3 separate regions of the Homo sapiens genome follow, and regions 1 and 2 are each linked to region 3. The links come from fine-mapping of genetic effects on gene expression. A gene starts in region 3. Each other region holds a variant in brackets. All regions are shown on one strand. Distances are between the middles of the regions. Region 1 has its middle 170 kb from the start of LINC02871. Region 2 overlaps SLX4IP (SLX4 interacting protein). Region 3 holds the start of JAG1 (jagged canonical Notch ligand 1).

What was found. PIP is the estimated chance that this variant, and not a neighbour inherited with it, causes the effect.
Region 1: its variant is fine-mapped to the expression of JAG1 in fibroblasts (GTEx, PIP above 0.99).
Region 2: its variant is fine-mapped to the expression of JAG1 in whole blood (INTERVAL, PIP above 0.99).

What each region holds. Positions count from the first base shown.
Region 1 is chr20:11,192,926-11,200,990 of GRCh38, forward strand. No RefSeq gene overlaps it. Among named protein-coding and RNA genes, the nearest start is that of LINC02871, 170 kb to the left of the region's middle. The variant G/A (reference allele first, on the strand shown) is at 3,482.
Region 2 is chr20:10,470,813-10,478,877 of GRCh38, forward strand. All of the region lies in intron 2 of SLX4IP (SLX4 interacting protein), which reads left to right. Among named protein-coding and RNA genes, the nearest start is that of SLX4IP, 40 kb to the left of the region's middle. The variant G/A (reference allele first, on the strand shown) is at 3,925.
Region 3 is chr20:10,669,214-10,677,278 of GRCh38, forward strand. It overlaps JAG1 (jagged canonical Notch ligand 1), which reads right to left and starts at 4,786. Exons shown (of 26, transcript NM_000214.3): 1 at 4,237-4,786; 2 at 3,488-3,793. The coding sequence starts at 4,317. RefSeq lists silencers at 1,429-1,478, 1,529-1,578, 5,009-5,408.

The DNA of each region.
Region 1 (8,065 bases), 520 kb after region 3:
AACTGCAATGAAGGACATGGGCAGTTGTGGAGATTGGGGTAGAATGTTTTCAGTGAAATACCAGCCTCCTAAGTGACAAGATTCACAGGAGCCTGTGCTTTAGCATGAAAATAATGTCCTCAATGTATCTTAACTGAGAACCAGACAAGTAATTTTTTAGTAGAACTTCAAACAATTGTTTACAGTAGAGTATAAAACATACTGCATATTAATTATATTCACACTCCTACTTGAGCTACACCAGTTGTCAGCGTTGACTATATATTTTCTACATATTTTATAATTAATAATAATAATTCTTTTTGGGAAGGTTTAGCCAATAGAAGGGAGATGGGGTGGTGGTTAAGTACCTCAGGATTGCAACTTGAGAGTGAATGGCAAGGAAACCACTTAATCTTTAAAACACACACACACACACACACACACTGTATTTCAAAATCTTCACTAGGTATTTGAGGTGGTTTTTTACTAGTGTTTTGAAATAGTGACTGTGACTCAAGAAAGGCTAGAAGATGCCACATCCATTCATATTTTTCTGCTAGGATTCTTATGGCTTCTAGTTGTGGTGAACCAACCTCATTCTACCAGTCATACAAGCTTACTATGACTTGTCAGCTTTTCCATTCCCTGGTCACTTAAGTTAAGTGTATCCATTTATTTACTTCTCTCCAATATTGCCAAAATCTACAGTGAGGAAAAACATTATCTGAGCCATTATATGTTGAACCATTATTAGGAAATATTTGGCATTTATGTATAAATAGTTTCAGTTGTAGAACAAAAAGCCTCTATTAAAATTTCTGGAACTTCTTTTTCAGAAAATTTTATCATTTAAATAGGCTCATAAAATTATTTTGTCATGACATATATCACAATGTAATATAATCTATTTGTATCTGTGTGCATGTACATACACACACCATATATCAGACATTGTTTTATAAATTTATTATAGCAGGTGGCTATTCAATAAATTTTGGAAGAAAGAAATACAGACCTATCCATACATCTGGAGTAGCTTTGACCTTGACCAACTTAACTTCTACTCTCCATGATCATGTAGTGTTCTATTTAGAGGATCCCAGTGTTGTTATTAGAGCACCTTGCATATACCAAGTGCTCAATAAATGATGGCTGAATGCAGAATAAAATCATTACTGACACTTTCTTTTTTAATCCCCAAGGGCATGGCACAAGTTTCAATAAATACCAGGTGATTTCTACTGAAAATAATTTTACTGTATAATTTACAAAGTGCTTAAGTATCCACTACCTCATTTAGTCCTTACTACAGTTCTACAAGCTAAGTAGTTTTATCCACATTTTAAGGTGAGAAAATTACGCCCAGAGAAGTTAGATGACTTGCTCAGGGTCATCAACAAATAAGACATCATGAAGGGAATGAATTCAAATTTGGTGCCTTTGCATCATCCACTTTTTGTGTAGAGTTGACTGGTCAAAAGTCTGTCTCTCATTTACAAGTCAAGGTGCCAGGCATACAGTCTTGAATGTTGAGCCTCAGGCCTCCAATGAGCAATTTGTATTATAACCAAATAGAGTTGTTTGGCCATTTTAGGTCAGCATTTATGGTATTTACACCTATGAACCTACCCCCTTTTCTCTTTACAAACTTATAGGTTGACAATTTTTTTGTGTGAAAATTCACTGAAATGAGATTATCTCATTTTTGCCTCTTGATTTTTGGTGTGCTTTCTTGTTCTTGTTTAAAACATTTGGTTTTGTTTTGATATTAAGCTTCAGTGTCAGTCCTGTGAAGACGTAAGATAGAAGCTATACATGTACAACAATATAATCCATACTTCCAAAGCTACAATAAGCAGTAACACTTTTGGAGCGAAAAATCTTGGTAAAGCAAACAACACATGTTTTGGGGTTTGAGATCTAGGTTTGAGGCCTAGCCACAGCACTCTCATGTTCTTTTTGACCCAAGCCAAATCACTCAGCCTGCTGAGATCTCAGTTGTTTTTTTTCATCCTGGACAATGGGCATGATGCTGACTGTCCCTCTGGGTGGTTCTGAGGATCTTGGGAGGATGGATATAAGTGCAACTTAAACTCTGGAGCCCTTTACAACTGCAAGGCAGCATTATTCACTCAAACATAAAAATAGGTCATTAAGCATCATCAAAGGGAAAAGTAAATGTTCAGGGATCATCTCTGCTGCACTGTTGCTGGGGAAAGAGGCTCTTTGTCCCTTTAAGAGCTTTCAGACACATCTCTAGTCACATCCTAAAAGCCTTCCTAGTTGTGTAGCTTAGGTGCATCCGGTAGCACAGCCGTGTTCTGATCTTCCTGGCAGATGTCATAATTTACTGTCACCCCCATGCAGGAATGCAGGGCGAGGGGCCCCCATGCCGGCTCTGTGATCCATTGCCTGACAAGTCCTGAGTGTCAACCTCAGGCAGGCCCAGCGGAGGTGGAACACCATTTACCTGATAGTGCCTGTGATAAAGTGGGCAATTAGACGCACTTGGAAAAGCCTGGCTGGAAACTGGCTGGCATTTACACAACATTACAGCCAAGTCAGGCTTCATAAAAGTTAATGGAGAAAAATGAAGTCCTTCAAGATCTACCTTGCTCTCTGAGGAAGTCAGGAACACAGGACTCTGTAGCTTTATTTCTTTTTGTGTCTCTCCCACCTTTTCACTCTATTTCCCCCAGACAGGGTAATATATTCTCATTGGAGATGGGAGTAAAGGAAAGCGAATTGAGAGTTGAGGTCTTAAGTGTTTGATCTCAGAGGCATGTTATTTCTTTAGTCTTCAATCCTCTCTCTTCCCCTCCTCTCTGTCTCTCTCTCACACACACACATGCACACACACACACACACTCTATACTTCTATAGAGTATACACACTCTATATTTCTCTGTCTTTCTGTCTCTGTCTCTCTCTCACACACATGTGCGAGCACACACACACACAATCACAGTGCTAGGATTTAACTTGGCACCTTGGCTTACAATTTGCCTCTCACTGGAGTTTCTGGAGTTTGGTGCCAGTTCAAGAGCATGATCTGTTTGACATGAATTCTACAGCCCTCTCTTCATTTCCTCCTAACTGGATAGCTTCAGTTTGCCGATGATTAATGAGTCTGGAAGGTGAGCGACAGTTATCTTAAGGGCTCTCAAAAGTTTATTTCAGAGACTAGCCAAACTCTCCTGCTACATTAACTGCAGCGAAGTTTCCTGTTTAACAGCCCATGGAAAATAACTGCCTGACCCCCGCCCCCCCCCCAAACCAAGCTGCCATGAGCGCAGCTCTGTTTATTGGCCAACAGTGTGCATGTTCTCTCTATCGCTTCCTTTCAGGCAGACGAACATTTTACCTATGAGAAGTAGGAAGTCCATTGTGAGGCTGGTCCAATACTGGACCTCATTTGGATGTGGAGGATTTCTGAAATTGGAAAGTCAGGACTGATCTGGAAAATGTGCTTACAGATAGTGGAACAGGAAAATGATTC[G/A]CTCCCCAAGGCCAGTTCCTCCTCCTCTGCTGGGTGGAAAAGGTGGGAGGAAGGGACAGGGTGTTCTGCCTGTGATTGGAATTCCCCTGTAGAGTCATAGAGGATGAGCAAGCCTTTGGTTTTCCTTTTTCATATTTTATTTTGCACCTACAATAATAAGCATGCAGAGAGGAGACAGAGAGGCCTAAATGAGTTTTTTTCCTTTCTAAATAATGACCAGCTCTGTATCAATCTGAAGGCTACTGAGGGATGCTGGTGGCTGGATGGCGGGGCCTATTTAGGGTTTTGGCCTGATTAAAAGGTAGTCCCAGGGACATGCAGGCCTACCAGGTGCACACTGGTGCCAGCCACTTCAGTGGGGTGGGGGAAATTACTGGGCCTGCTGTCTCAAGTTTGAGAGGACATCTGAGATTCGGGTCCGATAGGGTCACAATGTCTTCAACACGAATAAATAGGCAGTTGTAGGTTGGGGAAGGGAAAGCTAAAGTGGAAAATAAATAACTTAAGACACCAGACAAGTTCTGGAGACTGAGGTAGAGAGATGATGGAGTGCTCTTCACCCATGTACACTTCAGCCTCTCATGTCATCGTGGTGATGCTGCCAAAATAGACCCAAGTTACATTTTCCTTATGATCTCATTTTACTGGGCTTGAAGCCTACCTCACTCAACATCTTTGGAGGGTACATTGAAACGAGCTGTTTGTAAGACAGTATTAAAGGAAGTGGCGTTATATGTGTGTGTATTTGTGTCATATACATATATGAAACAAAGATATTTGAATATATACATGTAGATAGTTTCCCAAAAACCCATCTCCCTTGGGGAATAGTCTCACCTTCAGGGAGAGGTGCTAGAGAGGGTCAGAGATTCTCCTGCTCTATGCCATAAGACCAAAGATAGATTGTAATTATGATCCCAATTCTTTGCCTCTCCTCTATCCGTGCTATTTGAAGCCCCTCCCATCAAGAGGTGAGGTCTGGGTCTATTTCTCTACTCTTTGATTATTGATTGGCCTTGTGACACAGCTGGGCCTATAGTGGAGGTTACACTGTGCCAGTTTTGTCTAAGCCCCGAGATGTCTTGTGTGTTTCCTCTTGCCCACTCAATCCCTGTAAGTTGCAGCCATGACACTATGCCCTGAATAGCCTTCTGTAGGATGAGACATGAGGGACAGAGCCATGTCATCCCAGTGGTTTTAGCGAAGGCTGTCCTAAATCAGCCAAAGGCTAACTGACCTCTGAAATATGAATGGGCCCAGCAGAGCCCAGGCCAAATCACCAAACTACAGACACAAAAACTCAATAAATCTTATTGCTTTGAGCCAGAGTTTGGGGCTGGTTTGTTATGTGTGTTATTTATTATCACAGCAATAAATAACAGATGCAGTTGCCTCTGCTTACTGTTCCAAGTCTTACTTTTTTTTTTTTTTTGGTCACTCATTTACATCTTTTTACATCTTTGCTAGTGAGCCAGTCTGATAGTGGCCTTTATCTTACATGATTTTTCAGTCCTTCATTTGGCTTTACCTTCATTCTCTTTCTTTCCTCACTCCCACTCACTTTGCATAAGAACCCATTTTGTTTTTCTATGGCACTCTTAAGTTAATACCAGACAGCCCTGACATTAGTAGGGAATTTTTCTCAGTTCCTCTCAAGCAACTTCTACATTTTGTGTTATTTTGACATTTGGGAGAAAGAAACAAACAATAAACAACTCTGTAATGCATTGGGTAATACATAGTGCTGTGGAGAAAAATTAAGCAGCATATGCCAAATATTGAGAGTTGAGGGGAAGGGTGCTGAGTGGGGAAAGGGGTGCTTCTTTTTCATAAAGGGTCCCTAGGCAAGGCCTCTCTGAGAAGGAGGCATGTGAACAAATACTAGGTGACTTGATCCTTTTCTAGACTATATTGGAGTGGGATGAAGGGTATGTAGGTCACTCCCCTGGTTACCTATTTCAAGGACTGATATGGAGACATAAAGAATCACCATAACTTGCCCAATAAAGTGCCACTCATCCATGGTCACTGTGGGAAGGAGGCAGCATTTCAGGGCTTGCAATTCTTTACATGCTTAATCCTTCTAGTATCAGAACTTTAACAAGCACCTGCTGGACCTGAAGTCTAAAGAGCTAGATTTTTACATCTATGCTGCCACAAGAAAATCATGTAAACTTGACAAAGTCATTATTTTCTCTGGGTTGATTTTTCTCATATGGCAAGTGAAGGGTTGAATTAGATGCATTTTAAAGAAACTACCAAGTCTGTCATTCTGTGGTTTTATGAGATTATGTAGCTGGTGCTACATTGAGTTTTTCAGGAGAAAGAAAAGAAGAAATAATTGTAATAACAATATTGCCCTCCTCACCGACCCGTATAATCTTCTCTAATTCTTCACAAAGATGAGAGAGACAGAAAGAATAATACAAGGGGGTAGAAAATAATGCATGCTTTAGGAATCCAAGCAATACTTTTTCTCTTCCTCATTGAGTCTTTGTACCTTCTGTCCCAAATCCAGAAAGAGCTAGTCTGCTTTCTCATGAACCATCCTAAATCTATAGGGCATTACTCCTTTAGGCATCTGCCAGATTCTAATTCTGAAGGATGATGTAGGATTTGGGTGTTAAAGTTGCTACTGTGTCCCCAGTTCAGGGCTCTGAACTGTCTCCTGGTGATGGGGCACACTGCTGCTGACAATTTTGGGTGAGAGGTTACCCATAGTGAGCCTCCACTCATTTTCTACTCAACAAGGACCTCCCTGGAATTCATCTGTGGTCAAAAAGAATCGTGGCAAACTTTGGCTATTGTACATGCAACAGAATGGCACTTCGATGTTTGTGGAGCATGGCAAGACTGCAATCCTATAACCTTACTGGCCTGGTAGAACTATTGTCATCGATGATGATCATGCAACTAACAAGAACTGTCCAATAAAGAACTGTCCATGTGGATCAATAAAGGATCCACATGACATGTGAATAGAGGGAGGACTGGCTGGCAAGGAGGAATGAGGCCAGAAATGGAAAAGAATACATAAGCCAGAAAAAAAAAAAAGCCAGCTTCTAGAGGAAGCATTGATAGCCAAAGCCTGCCTGCTTGGGCCTGGCTCAGCACACTCCCTCCATTCTTGATGCAGGTGTTATCAAGATTAGAGCATGCTGAACTGCTGGAACTGCACAGAAAATGTCATTCAGGAGACATTGAGGGAGAGAAAGTGGGGCTGCAGCAGTCAGGAAGGGGCATAGGGCCTTCCTGCGTAGTCATTTTCACAGCACAGTAAGAATAATAGAATGAGAAAATATGATTTTACAAGAAAAAATGGTTAAAGAAAAAGAGACAAAACATCACCATCATGCACACTCACAAACACAGACACACACACACAAACATGCACAAAACAGGGTATTGACTACAAGGAATGAATGTTTCCATTCTATTGCCAAAAAGGCCTGATTCTCTTTAACTGCTGTTTACCATTTTTCATTGTTTTATTACTATTATTATTTTGAAAATACTAGTTAAGCAATTACCTCAACCACTTTTGAAACTGTAGTATAGTGAAGTGGTTAAAAATGAGAATTCTGGAGCCGAACATCCTGAAACCAAACCCCAGTTTGTACCACTTTCTGTTTTGGGTCTGGATACATTAGCTCCATATTCCTTAATTTTCTCATTTATAAAATGAAAGTTATAACAACTTACATGTCATAGAGTTTTTATGAAGATTAGATAAAATTATATGTGTGAAGCACATGGAAAATCAATGCCTTGATCATTTGTTATGAATATTTTCAACTCAGATACAATGCAGCCGTTTACAGAGGTCTAATAATGAATAAATATAGTGGTTGGAGGTTATGAGAGATTTAAAATGTACACATAAAGCCATTCCTCATTTACAAAATAGTTTAAGAGGAAGAATTACATGTAAAGAATTTAAATAGGACAATTATTCAAGACAAAATAGAAAGTAAAATCAAATAGAAATATTAATGAAATAGAGAAGTGATAGGTTCTCATTTCTTTTTACAATGTGTAAAAAGAAAATATAGTTTATTGGAAATCAATATTAAGGTAGAAAAGAGAATCTCCTTTTTATGTTGAGGGAGCATTTCAGAAGTCATTTAGTTTAACCTTTTGTTTATGATACAAACCTATTTTATGATTTCTCTGAGATCTTATCAGTCAAGGAGTGATTATGTTATATGGCTCATAGTTCATTCACTCAGGAAGCAATCTATTCCATTTTTGAAGAGCTATTAAGAAAAGACAAATAAAAAGCTATCAAAGGTCACTTATAGGAAAGAAGAAAAGGAGTAAAGCTGTTAACTTGTGAAGAGCTTAATTGGAGTACCTCTACTGAAAGTTAGGTTATTCATATTAATCTCTCTGCTAAAAATAATTTTAAAATTCTGAATAAAATATTTTTAAAGGATTAATATGAAGTGTTAAATAACTCATAAGATAGAAATTGTAGAGAAAGATGCAACTCAAAAGATAGAAAACAAAGTTTGATTTTACCATAAAGACAATTGTCAAAACTGAGAAATGTGAACACTGGTTTTGGGAACTTTAGCCTTGAGG
Region 2 (8,065 bases), 200 kb before region 3:
TCATTTTACTCTAGGTTCTTTGATAGCACTTCTTGAAATTTAGATCATCAAGTCTTTGAGGAAAGGATTCTAGAAAATTAAAATATCAGACTTTTAATCAGGATTCCTGAATGCATGTTGTGGTTTCACTTTTGAAAACTGGATGACTTTGGGTGAATTTTATTACCCCTTTGAGCATCTTATTTCTTCAGCTATAAGGTAGGATTAACAGCAGTGTCTGTTTTACAGGGTTTCTTTTGGATATCAAATTAATATAAAAGACATAATGCTGTGAAAGTGGGAAAATAACATTTTATGCATGTCTTAGGCTGTCAGTAATTATTTTATTATCTTACAGTGACATGCTGTATGGTATTTGAGGGACTTGGCCTTGACTTATTTGTTCCTGGTCTCATAATTCTTGGGAGTGAGGAGTAGTCTAATTCTTTTCATATGTGAGGGCTCAATTAGCAAATCTTTATTTATCCTCATCATGCAAGGCCCTGGGTTAGGCACTATAGACACAGATGAGGCTGATGATTGCCCATCCCTAACCTCAGGTAGTTTGCAGTGAGAAATTAATGTGTCAAACTAATATCATTAAATAAAGGTTAGTGAAAAAGAGATACCAGAGCACCCAGCATAGCTGGGTTATGACCAGATGAGCCCAGTAATTTTTTTCAGACATGTTTCTGAATGGGATGTTGTGGAAAAGCCATAGGGCAGCCAGTCTGTTGGGTGCACTATTTGTTAATCAGTTTATACTTTGGGCTACAGTGGCAGGTGGTCAGGATTAGAAGTTAGGGTTGTTAGATTTTAGTCCTTGCTATTGATTCCTATCTAGGGGCAAGTCAGCTAGCCTCTTTTGTTTCCGTTATCTGTATCTGTGTGACAAAGAAGCCCCACTATTCTCATATTTCAATGGGTCAGAAAATCCAGCTGGGCAGTTTTTCTGCTTTATTTGTCTTTGGCTGGGGTCAATCACTCAGATGCATTTGGTTACTGACCAGGCTACAAAGCTCTAGAAGACTTCACTCACATGTTTAGTTCTTCTCAATGATACCCTCTCTCTTCACAAGGTGTCTCATCACTCAGTAATCTGGCTTGAGCTCCCTTACAACATGGCATCTAGCTTCCCCAGAGCACATGAAAGTGGAAGCTGCCAGCTTCCTAAGGGCTACCTCTGGAACTGGCACACTATTATTTCCACTGTATTCTATTGGGCAGCAAATCACAAGGTCAAGAGGAGAGGAAATAACTGCCTCTTGATGGAAGGAGCAGCGTACCTCCAGAGGAGGGAAGGGATTGTTGGTGGCCATCTTTGGAAATTGTTTAGTGTAGTTTTCTTATTTGTTTATTATAGTTTTCTTATCTATTAAATGAGATGTTGAATTAGGGAGTTTCTAAGGGCCTGTCAAACTCTACATTTCCGTAATACTATACTTTTTTTTTTTTTTGAGATGGAGTCTGGCTCTGTCGCCCAGGCTCGAGTGCAGTGGCACGATCTCGGCTTACTGCAACCTGTGCCTCCCAGGTTCACGCTATTCTCCTGCCTTAGCCTCCCGAGTAGCTGGGACTACAGTCGCCTGCCACCACGCCCGGCTAATTTTTTGTATTTTTAGTAGAGACAGAGTTTCACAGTGTTAGCCAGGATGGTCTTGATCTCCTGACCTCGTGATCTGCGTGCCTTGGACTCCCAAAGTGCTGGGATTACAGACGTGAACCACCATGCCCGGCCTGGTAATACTATACATTTTTATTTAAGGGATTTTTGTGTGCATGGTATAATGGAAATAATTTGGCCTTTGGAGGCAGAAAGGCCTGGGTTTGAACCAGGGCCTTAAGATTGACCAGCACCTTGGGAAGTGACTTGAGTCTTTCTGAGCTTTTGTACACATCTGTTAAATAATAGGGTTAATTAAATAGGATTAATGTTAACTCACTTCTATAATAATTGTCCATCTTAGCACAGAGTCACGACCCAGAAGGTGTTAGCACCCATCCCTTTTCCCTTCTTTGTTACCTGATACAGGCCTTTTAAAGCCAACAATAGTTAAAGATATTCATTGAGGTTTTTTTGTTTTGTTTTGTTTCATTCAAGTATAAAAATGTTTAGGTGTTTAATTGTGTTTTGCAGATGCTGGCTTATTTTTCTAAGACCAGGAGTTCAAACAAAACTGTTAAGTTTGTTTATCTGTTTTGTTGTTATAAATTGTCCTTAGAACATTGTTGCTATTAAGAAAGCAGGCTTAAAAATAACTTAATTTGAAAAATGCATTTTGGTCTGTGAACAGCTGAGTTATTTGGCATTCTAGTAACTTTTGTCTGGAAGAAAAAAATAGCTGTGGGGCATGGCCAGCATTCGGTCTGGCTGTTATACGCTGTGGTGGTACTTAGCTTGTGAACCAGGCCTGATAGGTGAGACTGGGCATGCACTTCTACTCACAGGCTAAATGGTTGAAACCACTGGGGTCAGAAAGCTCAGCAACTAAGGGCAGTAGGAGAAAAGAAAATCTCTGTTGTCTCTAAAGCACTGGTTCTCAGTGTATTCCCTGGACCAGCAGCATTAGTATCTCCCACAGTCATTGCAGTGATTTTATTGTACTGGTTATTGAGAGGGTTAAATAAAAGGATTCGTATAAAGTGTTTAGCACAGTACCAAGTAACCATTTTAGTAAGTGTTAGGCATTATTAGTAATATTCATCTTCATTGTCATAAATATTGATAATCATTGTGGTTAATATTTTTCTGCCAGAGTGTGTCTTGAAGCAGCTTATTCTGCAATTCTTCTTAAAACTGCCAGAGTTCTGTTTCTTTTTTTTTTTTTTGAGACAGAGTCTCACTGTGTCACCCAGGCTGGAATGCAGTGGTGTAATCACGGCTCACTGCAACCTTCACCTCCCAGGTTCAAGCAATTCTCCTGCCTCAGCCTCCCAAGTAGCTGGGATTACAGGCGCCTGCCACCACGCCTGGCTAATTTTTAAAAAATGTTTAGTAGAGACGGGGTTTCACCATGTTGGCCCGGCTGGTTGGTCTTCTTTTTTTTTTTGAAAGGAGTCTTGCTCTGTCGCCCAGGCTAGAGTGTGGTGGCGTGATCTTGGCTCACTGCAACCTCCGCCTCATGGGTTCAGGCGATTCTCCTGCTTCAGCCTTCCAAGTAGCTGGGATTACAGACACACGCCACCATGCCTGGCTAATTTTTGTATTTTTAGTAGAGATGGGATTTCACCATGTTGGCCAGACTGGTCTCAAACTCCTGACCTCAGATGACCCACCTGCCTCAGCATTCCAAAGTGCTGGGATTACAGGCGTGAGCCACGGTGCTCGGCCTCAGGCTGGTCTTGAACTCCTGACCTGAGGTGATCCATCCTCCTTGGCCTCCCAAAGTGCTGGGTTTACAGGCATGAGCCACCATTCCTGGCCAAAGCTGCCTGAGTTCTGATTAGTTCTTTTTAAAAGCTTATGAATGGTGTGCTGGTCTAACAATATTTCAAGTTGTCAAGTAAGAAGGAGCTTCTTACAAAAGCCCATCGTTCTGAACAAGATATTCTTCAGTCCAAAATAATATTGAGAGATCACATAACACAGCTATGCAGATATATTCTAAGCCCTAACTTCGTGGGAGTCATTAATGCCATTTAATGAGGCCCCATACAATGTCTGAACTCTGGAGTTTGCTTTTAAGAGCCATTCTTTCCTAGACCCCCTTCCCTTCTTTACTTTAGGTATTGATGTCCTCCATTTACATCTCTGTGGAGTTTTTTCCTTTTTCTTTTTTCCCCCGCTCCCATTTGTGGTCAAATAAGGATCATGGTTAACCCCAGAAGGAAGGCCAGATGGGCCTTGGGGGCCTGGGCTGGGGCTGGAGCCTCTCCACTTCCGCCGGCCGCCTTGTTCACTTCCTTTTTTTCCCTCCCTTACCACTATGTTGCAGCCAAACTTCC[G/A]AAGTGAAAAGCAGTTTATTCCATCTAATCGGGGCTGCTGAATCAGAGGTGTTGGGGGTGTTCCCTGGGATGATGCTGCCCTTTGGCCACTGATCTCTGTATCATAGCTTACCTCGGCCTCCCTCTGGCGCCACCATCCAGGACTGGAAGCATTTGCTTTTCCTCAGGGAGCCGTGGGTTCAGGCCATGGGTGGTGAGAGAGTCTCATCTTCTCCAGCTTCCTGGTCCTCAGACTTGAGTAACACTCCTTATCCTCTGTCTGTTGCCTTCTTTGGGCAAGCACGTGGAGCCGCTCAAGTAAAGCTGCTCTTCATTGGGAATATTATCTGCCAAGGCTAAGCCAGGATCCCTAGAGAGCATCCAAGTCAGGGCTTTCAGCAGAGTTCCCTGGAAGCACTGCATTCTGTGGAGGGCCAGAGCCAGATCCCTGTCTCTGCTCCAGCCGACAGCTCGGCCACCATCAGTTTGGTGTATTGAGGTCATGCATAGAATTTAACATTGAAAAACATCCTTGTTCAGCTCCTTCAGTGATGAGATGAGAATCCCTGGGGAGTGGAAAGTGAGGATCTCAGAAGTTGCCCAAGGGAACTTAGTGTCTTATTTAGAGTCATAATAACTAGCTTAGACTAGCGTAACTGCTAGTCAAGGCTCTTTGGAAGGAAGTAACACCCACGCAAACTACTAGAACTTGAAATGGGCAGTTTATGATAAGGGAGTGTGACTGTCTCAGCATACTGGCATCAGTGTGCTATTGAGCTGGTGAGGGCCTGGAGGTAGCTTCAGGTTGCCCATGGCCCTGAGGCAGCTTCACTGTGGGCCTCTCTTTGAGAAGTGGGATTCTGGTCTTTGCATCTTCCTTGTTATTCTCCCTCTGCTGGCCTCTCTCTGCTCCTTTGTTCATGTTGCAGAAGATAGTGGCTCCTCACCTCCCAAGTGACATATCCTACAAAACTGCTGCACTTTCTGCCCCAATAGCAAACTTCTGGAGGTGAATTTGGGCAGATGTCCACTTTTGCTTCATCGATTGTGGCACGGGGCAGTGTCACATGGTAAATACATGGCTGCCCATGCCCACCCTTGAGCATGACAGCTGTCAGAAAGAGGGGCATAGATTCCCCCAGAAGTTACATGATAGTACTTTACAATTTAGAGACTTTGCTGGAAAGTTTCTTTTTGGCAGTCTCATAGACAGGCCTTTTTACAGAACATAGTAATGAGCACTTACAGTTTGTAGAGAGGCCTCGGGGGCATCCAAGAGGTAGCTGGAATAATCTGACCCTTGAGAAGCTTCTCTTGGTTCCTGGGGATGACGATGGTCATAATTAACTGCTTTACTTACAACTTGGCAATGTGTTTTATTATCGGTGTGCATTTTGAAGTGTTTTAAGGTTTTTCACATCCCTCACTGTGTGTGTGTGTGTATATATATATCTGTTATGATAATTAAACCAAATATTGTAAAAGTCAAGAAAAGTGTCAAAGAGGATGTCATTCTACTAAACTTTTTTGAATGGCTACTCTTTGATGATCTTGTGAGTTGGGAGAGGACCCAACCTTCAGTAGCATGAATCTGGTCTTAAATCTTAAATTTTGAAGCACTGAATGCATTGCAAAGTGTCCCATAGTCATCTATGAGTGTGCATATTTGCTTTTGACTCAGCATTCCATTTGTACTTCCTCCACAACAAAAAATGCATTGTAGCTTTAGTATTTTTAATTGTCACCAAGTAGTACTGCTAGCCATTGTGCAAAGTCTACCAACAGCTGATAAAATGATTACATTTTTAAAGGTTGCTGGATGGAATCAGATGTTGCTGTATCAGTTCCTATGCCGCGTGTGTCTGTTTCACTTCCCATAATGACTGATTCTCCACCTGCCATGACAGTGCATTCTTGATCTGCTGCGCCCTCCTTGGGTTGGGGACTGGAATATTTATTTTTAGGAAAAGTTAAAATTATCCAGAGAAGGGTGCTTTCTGTAAAATTTACATGAATCAGCCTCTTATTGCAGAGATCATGGGAGATGTGTGTGTGTGTAGATAAAAAAAACTCAATGGAAAAATGTAAAACTGTTAAAGGGAAGGAATATAATGAACATTGTTTTACCCATCACTATCTTTAACATTGTGGGCACTTTTAAATTAACTAGTATTCAAACTAAATGTGTGTTTAATAAAAGTGAATGGTACTACATAACATTAATGCTTTTGCAGTTAAGCTAGATTTTCCAAATTTCAGCAAAACCAAGAGTCTTAGCTCCTTCCTTCAGTCTTCAGTTTAAATTCTAAGAAATATTATTCGAAGTTTAAGAGGTCTTATTAGGGCATTAATGTGGGTTTTCCCGTATCAAGAGCAGACACAGGTTTTTGGTGTCTTAGGTTCTAAAGATACCAGTGTTCCTTAGATTTCTGACCTGACTGTGAAGGGAATTCTCTTTTTTTTTTGAGACGGAGTTTCGCTCTTTTAGTGGCATGATTTCGGCTCACTGCAACCTCCGCCTCCTGGGTTCAAGTGATTCTTCTGCCTCAGCCTCCTGAGTAGCTGGGTTACAGGTATGCACCACCACGCCTGGCTAATTTTTGTATTTTTAGTAGAGACGGGATTTCACCATGTTGGTCAGGCTGGTCTCAAACTCTTGACCTCATGATCTGCTCACGTTGGCCTCCCAAAGTGCTAGGATTACAGGCATGAGCTGATTTTTTGTGTTTTTAGTAGAAATGGGGTTTAACCATGTTAGCCAGGCTGGTCTTGAACTCCTGACCTCAGGTGATCCGCTTGCCTCTGCCTCCCAAAGTGCTGGGATTACAGGCGTGAGCCACCGTGCCCGGCCGAAGGGAATTCTTGTTAGGCTATTGCACAGTTGTCAGATGGACCTGACTGCTTCTCATCTCTAGGATCTTGGTTCCTTCTCTCCAATATGGGGATAATAAGTGTCAATCTTCATGGGGTTGTTACATAAAAGGTTTCTAACACAATGCCTGGCAACTGGTAAGCATTTACCAAATAAATAAGCCTTAGCTTAATTAGTAATCAAAGATACCAGCTGGGAAACATATCTATTTTAAGATTATATAGGCTCCTTCTCATCCTCTTTGGGCATTTTATTTCAGCTGCTTAAGATGTGAAATCTGTGTGTTGTGGTGTTCCTTGTTACAATCTCCCTTTTTTTTTTTTTTTTTGAAACGGAGTCTTGCTCTATCGCCCATGCTGGAGTGGGAGTGGCGTGATCTTGGCTCACTGCAACCTCCGCTTCCCAGGTTCAAGCAATTCTCCTGCCTCAGCCTCCAGAGTAGCTGGGACTACAGGTGCACTCTGCCACGCCTGGCTAATTTTTTGTATTTTAGTAGAGATGGGGTTTCACCGTGTTGCCCAGGCTGGTCTTGAACTCCTGAGCTCAGGCATTCCACCCGCCTCAGCCTCCCAAAGTGCTCGGATTACAGGTGTGAGCCACCGCGCCCGGCCAAGCTCTCTTTTAAAAGCTTTTTTTGTGACAGCAAAAGAAAGGGAGCTAAGATTGACTACCTAATAAAGTAGGTGTTTTTCACATTTTCATGTGTTTCCTATTTAGTTCAGTAGGTGTTTTTCCTGTTTAGTTCTCACAACACTGTGAAGTACATGTTACTGTTGACATGTCACAGATGTGACAGGCAGTGAGATTGAGTAATTTGCTCAGTTGGGAGGTAGAGAATGTGAAAAGCAGGTTTCAAGCCTGGGGTCTCTGACTCAAAGGCATATGCTTTGATGAAGATCGAAACTCTAGCTACAAGCTTGTGAAGATATTAATTTAGAATCATCCTTGTCCAGTAATAACACAACTACTTATAGTGGTTTGTAATTTTAAACATTTTATTAATATTAACTATATTACATTTACTAACCATGTTAAAATATGTTCTCTTGGGAGGTAGGCAGCACAGGTAACATTGTTAAAGAAGGGGCCCTGGAGCCTCTGATTCTTGTTCTTTATTGTCCTTGCCCCTCAGTAAAAAATCCTTTAGGAAAACAGATGCGTTGATGACTGTGCTGGTCAAAGGTCAATTTTGGACCCCAGACTCCTTTGTAAAAGCTTAATGAATCTGACCAACTCTTCTAAGCTCTTCTAGAGGTAGCTGCCACTCCCAAGGGAGAGATTCTTGAGCTC
Region 3 (8,065 bases):
TTTTCTCCACATGCAGAAAGTCCCTTGCTCTGAGCACATACGTACACACATGCTCTTTCTTTGTATACATGCTGACTACACGGGCAGGATGCAAATCCTGGCTGCAGAAAGGAGGCAGGTCAAATCAGAACCCCATCCTTAAGCCCTCCATGTGCCCACACCATATCTACAGAAGCTCAGGGACTGGAAAAGACAGCAAAAGGCATAAAAGTAAGGGCCTGTCAATTACATTCTGTGATTAGCATCGTGGCAATTGGTCATTCAGGCCTGAAGCATGAAGGGGGCCAAAGCTGGCATCCCTCACACAGAAGAATCACGTTTCATTGGATTTTCCAAAAAAAAAAAAAAAAAAAAAAAAAAAAAAAAAAAAAAAAAGTTGATCTCAGCAAGTCTTTTAATAGGATCAATGGAATTTAAATATGAGGCTAATAAGCCAGATACCCCAATTTCTTCCCCTAACGTTTCTCTAGATTCATTTCACTCTGGGGCCACCGATGCAGCAATACAGCTAACTGGGGTTCTGAAGTTCCCAAAAAGCTTTTGGAGATGAGTAGTGGTAATTACACTAATGTATTTTTAATAAGCAGGCACTACTGGGATTTAGCACTAATTTTGGGAGGTACAGATTAACCGTTTCAGTGATTTATAAGTGGTAATTCCTAAATTATTTCCTGTTAAGCCCAATTACTTCCCACAATAATGGTTCTTATCACTTGGTCCCCCAATTTGAGAATCATTAATCCAGATAGTTGCTGCAAGTTAAGCCCCTTAGAGCAGCAACAGTATGAGAATTAGAAGCCAGTGGTGAAAAACTACCCCAAGACCAGAGCCGGGGCAGGGGACACCACGTGGGACATACTCAGATATGATATATGACAGGAAGGGCCACCTCTACAAAGCCTTTCACATGCACACCAGAACATGGACTGTATTTCATATCTGACCAAATCGTTTCCTCCTCGTCCTCTCTAGAACATGAACAGTTGCTTGGATAGGGGTCATAATTCCAAACAAAAAGCATGAACTACATGACCTTCTACACTGACCTACCCCTGCACCCTTTGCTGATACCCAGCGTCAGCAAATTTGGGAGGACTCATGCAAATGGTAATTGTGCCTGCTAGGGGTTGGGAGCCCAAGGTGGTTTGGAGTTTTGTTTTGTTTTTAACCATATATCCTTTTCTTGCTATCTCTTGAATTCTGTACTAAGTTCATTTATTTCCCATTCAAGGAAATCAGTTTTAAAAGACATAGTTAATTGCCAAACTAAATGAAGCTGTGCCCTCTAGTTAAATACTCGCTCAGCTACTTAAGTGTTTCAGTTACGTTTCTACTCAGCCTGGAATCATTCTTGAAAGTTACGGACTGTGCCGTTTCTCCAACCACATACAGAAAAACAAATACACCTAAACTCCAATTTCTCTTGAGAATTAAATCTTATGTTTCACAGCAGGCCTTTCTGGGGCATCAGGGTGGAGACTTGTTTATGAGTGATACATGCGTTTGTCCCAACTTCAAAAGAACCACATTTTCAGTGGTGCCCCATCGGTCTTCCCCCATTCGAGAAAAGCCGAGAGTCTATTTCATGGTTGGTGACCCGTGGGGCCTGAAACCACAGAAGAGCACCAGCAAATGCAAATCAATCGCCTCTCCTACCCTCCCACACTATTTCCGCTCGTTTTCCATTGAGGACTCTGACCAAGTGTCAAAAGCGGACAGACGCACTTTTCTAGGTCACTTTTCCTTGGCCAGCGAGGGAGCAAGCCTCCTTGTTTTCATGTTAGCCATCCCTCTGACCCTACTCTCCAAAATGAGCCTCAGCCAGGCTGCTGCTTTTCCACATCACTAATAAGATTCCTTTTATGGTCTTGTGAAAAGCGAGGGGCTCCAGACAGATCCTCCGGCAGGAGGGTGGAACCACCTGCAGGCCCCTTCCCCCTAAACTCCAAACACACGTTCAAGGGCAGTTTGAGTATTCACAGTCAGCTTGGGCCAGCCAGATTTAAACGCAGCCAGACTCTTTAGCTTAAAGTTCTCCCTAATAGGGGATTAACAAACAAGATAAATACTCTTGGTAAAAATGAAATCCCACAACAGAAACAGCCCTTGGACCTCAAGAGAGCTTCACAGACAGCGTTGGTTTTAATTTTTCTTTTTATAAACCCCTTTTCATGGCAGTTTTTGATAACTGTCTTATCTCACCCACAGCAGAGGGCACTTTATAATGCCAGCTCCTGTAATCGTGGATTTTAAGAGCCACCCCAAGCTTCATACACAGACACAGCCAGATAGTCTCCCCTCTGTCTCCTCCCAGAATCACAACCTAAGCCGGCGGACAGGAGGCAGCAGAGTGCACCCCATTAGAGCACGTGGTGGAAAGCAATGCTCTGGGGCACCGAGCTCCCCCTCTCACCACCCACCCTCCCAGCACAGGCTAGGCCAAGCCCCAGTCTTGGCAATGAGTCATGCCTCCTGGACAGCAGGAGCCAGGCAGAGGGCACACCCCCAACATTTCCCTTTCCTCCCCTTCTGCAATCGCACCCATCTTCCTTCCACCCATTTTGGGATGTTGCAAGGGCCTCGCTGCAGGATCTGCCAGCTGGGCCCGGGCCTCGAGCTCCTTTGGGGGCGGAATGGGGCGGGGGGATGAGGGCCTATCACTTACACCCTCAGGCACTACCTCCAGAAGACCACCCCTTCCAAGCCTTGGCACGGCCCCCGAAGGCTTGCGGGGGCCGTGCACCCGCCCTTCCCGGGGAAGTCTGCAAACACAGCTGTTCCAGAGCCCGGGAACCGCTGGAAGTGAGGCCACAAGAGCTACACCACTCGGGGGCGGGGGCAGGAAGGGGCCAGCAGCGGGCGGGGGTTCCCAGGTCTACAGCTCCTGTGAGGGCCCCAAGAACCTCCTCCTGCGGCGGCCGCCCCCGGCCCTTAAGCCGAACCTGGAGAGCGCCCCCGCACACACTAAAATCTCCCGGGGAGCAGCGGGAAACGGACTCCCCCACACCCTCCAGGAAGGACACACCCGCCCTCCCGGCCGTTCACGGGAAAGGGGAGGTTGCCAATTTGGACGGCGTTCGCAGGCCAGAACTGCGCCGAGTCGCCTTCCACGGCGCACCAGGTTTAATTAGTTAAGCAAAGAGATCAGCTACAACGATCTCTTGGCTTGGGGCCGGGAGAGTTACTCTGGGAACTTCAAGTTGCAAGTTTACACCGGCCTTCCTAGGAGCCTGGTCCCATAAACCCTCTGGGATCCCCACTTTTGTGCACTAAGCAAATAGCAGCAGGAATGGGACCCACCTCGACTACCCCAGCCGAGATCTAACTATAGTGTCCCGGCTCCCTCACCCGCCACCCCTAGAGATTTCCCCAGTTAGCGCCTAGTTTCAAGCCAAAGCCCTTTAAATCCCTCTCGCAAGGGATAACAGGGCTCGGCCAGGCGCGGGTGTGAGGCTCCGCCCGGCCTCCTTCCCGAGTAGTCACTCACCGGCCAGGCGAAACTGAAAGGCAGCACGATGCGGTTGCGGTCGTTGCCGCGGCTGGCCTTGAGGTTGAAGGTGTTGCCCCCGATGACAGGCGTGGACCCTGAGCCGAAGCTGCAGGGCCCCCCGGCCGTGACGCGGGACTGATACTCCTTGAGGCACACTTTGAAGTATGTGTCACACTCGTCGCGGGTGCACTTGCGGTCTCCCGGGTTCCGGGCGCCGCCGCAGCAGTTCCCGTTCTGCAGCTCCCCGTTCACGTTCTGCATGGACAGGATCTCCAACTCGAACTGACCCGAGGCCCCACACACCTGCCGGCGAGGGAAGGAGGTAGGTCAGCGCGGGAGAAAGCTGTTTTCTTCGAGTATAGAGGTGGCGACTCCCTCCCACTCCCCGCCCCGACGAGCCCTCCTCGCCGAGTGAAAATAATTTTGCGAAACTACGTTCAAGGACTCAACATGATTCCGGGGCAAAAAAAAAAAAAAATGCACGAGTGCGGAAGAAATCCGACGACTTCCCGGGGGGCAACAGCGGAGCGAACGCGCCCCTGTCCGGCCTGGAGGGGTCACCCTCAGGAGGCAGGGGCTCCCGTGGGGGAGTTGGCGCGCTCAGCCCAGGTGCAGCCGCTCGGGCGCAGGGGCGAGGAGTCGGGCGCTCGAGGGCTGCCGAGCCTGCTCGCGGGGCTCAACCGCCCAGGGCGCCGCGAGGGGAGGGAGAGGACGGCTGGGAGGGAGGCCCGGAGAAGGGCTCCTACCTTGGCTCGCAGGGCACAGAGCAGGGCGAGCAGGAGGCTTAGGGGGCGCCCGGACCGGCCGCGCGTCCGTGGGGAACGCATCGCTGCGCCGCGCGCCGCGGGCACTCGGGACGCCGCCGCTGCTGTTCGCGCTGGTGCTGCCGCCGGTGCTGCCGTCGCCGCTGCCCCTGCGGCCGCCGCGTCCCGGCTCTAATATACTCCGCCGATTGGAGCATGCACGACTGGAAAACAACACCACTTTTCAAAAGCCCTTTCAAGAGCGGCCCGTTCCAGAAGGCAAAGAGCCCGGCCTCCTTTTATTATTCTGATCGCTTCTTTGAGACGCTCCCCCTCCTCTTCCACCTCCCGGCTTTCTTTCCTTCTCTCGCGCTCCCCTTCTTTTATTATTATGATTATGCGCAGCCTTTTATTCCCTTTTAGATCAGCTGCATGGAAAAAGGGGGGAGGGAGGGGAGAAAAAAAAAAACCAGCCTAGCTCGCGGGCCGGCCGCAGGTAACACAATGACGCGTGCCCGCCCGGCTCTCGGAGAAGGACCCGGAGAGCCCGTCTGGCAGCAGCGGCCGGGGCTGGCCACCTCTACCCAGCACGCCGGGCAGGGCGCATGCGCGCTTATTAATATTCATGAGAGGGCGTGCTCACCCTGGGCACGCCCCTCCCCTTCACGTTGCTGGGGAGGGGGTAGTGCGAGGAGGAACTTGGAAGGGGTTGGGGGCAGCGGGATGCTCAGGGCGGCGTAGAAGAACCAGGGCCCCACACCAACCCCCGCCCTCGGGAGCTTCGGGCCAGGAGGGAAGGGAGAGTGCGGGGAGGTACTTGGAAGGGATCGTTGCTCAGGGACGCCTGGAGGCCCCCAGCGGGGACCGCCCCCTCGGGCGCCCCGGGCCGTGCGCCTTTGCCCGCGCGTCGGGGCCCCAGGTGTAGGCGCCGCGGCGCTGACTGAGCGGTCGGAGCGGGGCAGCTTCCGCCTTCCGAACCGCCTGCGTCAGCTGCGGCTTTCGCCCCGGGAGGAGGGCCTGCCTGCCCGCCGGGAGTTCGGCCCGCTTCCCGCGAGCGAGCCGCCCAGAGCGCTCTGCTGGCGGCAGAGGCGGCGGCGAGGCTGGCGCGCTTGCCGCCGTCTGCTCGCCCCGCGGAGGCGACCTGGGCAGACGCTGCTGGGAACTTTGAAAAACTTTCCTGGAGCCAGGCTTGCCGCAGATTCGAGGGGAAGCCTCGGCCGCGTCCCACCCCCTCCCAAATCCGAGTCTGCGGAGCCTGGGAGGGCTCCCAGCTTCCTATCCAAACCGCGCCGGGGCAGAGGCGCGGGGAAACCGGGGGTAGAAGGCGGCGGGCACGCCGGGGCCCTGTTCAGGCTTTGGGAAGGGCCGGCGGAGATGCTGGTGGGCTTGGACGCCCTCCCCGGCCCGACGCCCCGGCCGCAGTGCCGGGATTGCACCTGTAGGCGGCCTCCGAGCAGCTCTCTGGGTGGCAAGAGATGGGCCTGGGAGGGACCGTGTCCCCAGCACCGCCAGCCGCGGAACTTGCCTTCTCTGGGGTGGCAGTGGAAACCGATACTGTTTTCCACCTTGAGGCAAGCCTCGCAATTAACAGCTACACTCCTGGTCATAATCAAGGTCGAAGAAAGCCCGTGGGCTGGCCGTAGCCTCTGCTAACCCCTCTCCCACGGGCTTGCTGTTGCATTTGAGGGGACCTTTATATGGAAACATCGACTTCCTTTGAAGGGTGGACAAAGTTTTGGCCCTAATAGTAGGTATGTCCTGCAGAAAAGCGTGACTATTCAGCGGCCGGTTTGGGGCTTGAGTTCTCCTGGGTGTGGGGCGTGATGGGCTGGCAATAGGTCAAGGGAAAATAGTTTCCAACATGCTGAGTTATGAGCATAAAAGGGTGGGTATTTGTGGTTATCTACTTATTGCATTTGATGGGAGGCTCAGTATGAACAATATTTTCAGTGCCAAATCTCATCATTCTGAGGAATAAACTAGGGCAGCTAACTGACCTCTTTACATAGGTTCAAAGCTACCAAGGATGGTTAGGAGTCTTGGCATTTTAACAGCCTAAGAAATGCTCCTAAGAAAAGTGCTTACTTAGTGGTAATGTGTCCCATCTTGAGCACTGGCGGGAGAATCCATGTTTTGGAAGGGAGGTTTCTAAGAACAGAGCAAGTTTACAGCTGGTCATGTTAGCAGCTGGGGTAGGCAGCGACAACCTGGGTGTTTCAATGTGCCCCAGCCTCCCTTTCCCCAATTATCCTAAATCAAGGCAACCAGTTGTCAACTGTAATCCCATCTACACTTTTCTCACTGAGGTTTCCATCAACACCAGTCTCCCCACTTATCTGTCCCGTTCTAATTTCTACTCCCAAGTATCCCTGAGTTTGGGTGCTAAATAACGGTTTAAAAGTAAAATGGGCCGCGAGCTGTGGGTCACGCCTGCAATCCCAGCACTCTGGGAGGCCGAGGCGGGTGGATCACGAGGTCAAGAGATTGAGACCATCCTGGTCAACATGGTGAAACCCGGTCTCTACTACAAATACAAAAATTAGCTGGGCGTGGTGGCACATACCTGTAGTCCCAGCTACTCGGGAGGCTGAGAGAGGAGAATAGCTTCAACCTGGGAGGCGGAGGTTGCAGTGAGCTGAGATCATGCCACTGCACTCCAGCCTGGCGACAGAGCGAGACTCCATCTCAAAAAAAAAAAAAAAAAAAAAAAAGGCAAAATGGTGCTGAAAAAGGCTGGTGTGATCTTAAAGAGCACACTCCTTGGAGTTCCCTATGTCGGACCCTGTTTTAATTCTGTGCCTTGTGCCCCCCACAGCTCTCAGGAAAGAGGCTGCGGAGCCAGACCTTTAGTTAAAGTGTTTAGATCTCCACCTGGCTTCACCTAGAAGGGCTACCTGAGATTGCAGGTGCCACCAGTTGCAATCTGGGCCACATGCAAGCTGGTGTCACCTCCAGTCCACCAGTGAATTTAGCCCATTTGACTGATAGGAAAGAAAATATAAACTCTGAGAGGTGAAAACTACCTGATTACACCTAACAAGAATGTCAAATCACTGATAAACACAAAATTTTTATGTCACATAGCACAGAGTCCCACACCCTTCCTGAGCCTGGGAACCCACTTTTAGAGAAGGCAGTTGTGGGCTAGAGGGAATTCTTTTGAAAATTTTCAGTTGGGGCTCTTCCAAATAATTGGGACTCCCCCAAAAAGCCAGTCACGTTTACCACAACAGACACTGAGTGGAAGCTCTATCCTCTGCTTCCTTGAAGCCGGTTGTCAGGCCCCCTCCTTAGAGAATGAGGAACTGCTGCCGAGAGAACTGAAATACAGAGATTCCCCCTTGGCAGGGCTTGTCCTGCTTTGGGGTATAGCCTCCAAGTGTAAATGAATATTCCAGAACAACCTTCCTGTGGAAAATGCCATCTTTAGCTGTCATACCTACACCTGAGAGAAGGGGAGAGGCTTGTAGTCAGTTACTATCTGACCTGTCTCGTGTGCTCAAACATCATCCTTGGATATCTTTTCCTTTAATTCTAAAAAGATGATGGATGCCTCATTTTTTCTTTTCCCAGAAAACTTGCCCCACTTTTATCTAGTCAACAACATATAGCAGTTCTGAACCTGCAAAAGCTTTATAAGAGACATTCAAGCTATATTAGCTGTATTTAAGTACATCTAATCAACTGTAATCCTTGGTTAATCAACACTGTGGTTAAAATAAGCTAATCAATATTTATTGAGAACTGCTATTATAAGCAGTAACATCGATGATCTAAAAAATATTATGTTAAGTGAAATAAGCCAGACACAAAAGACTACATCCTGTATGAA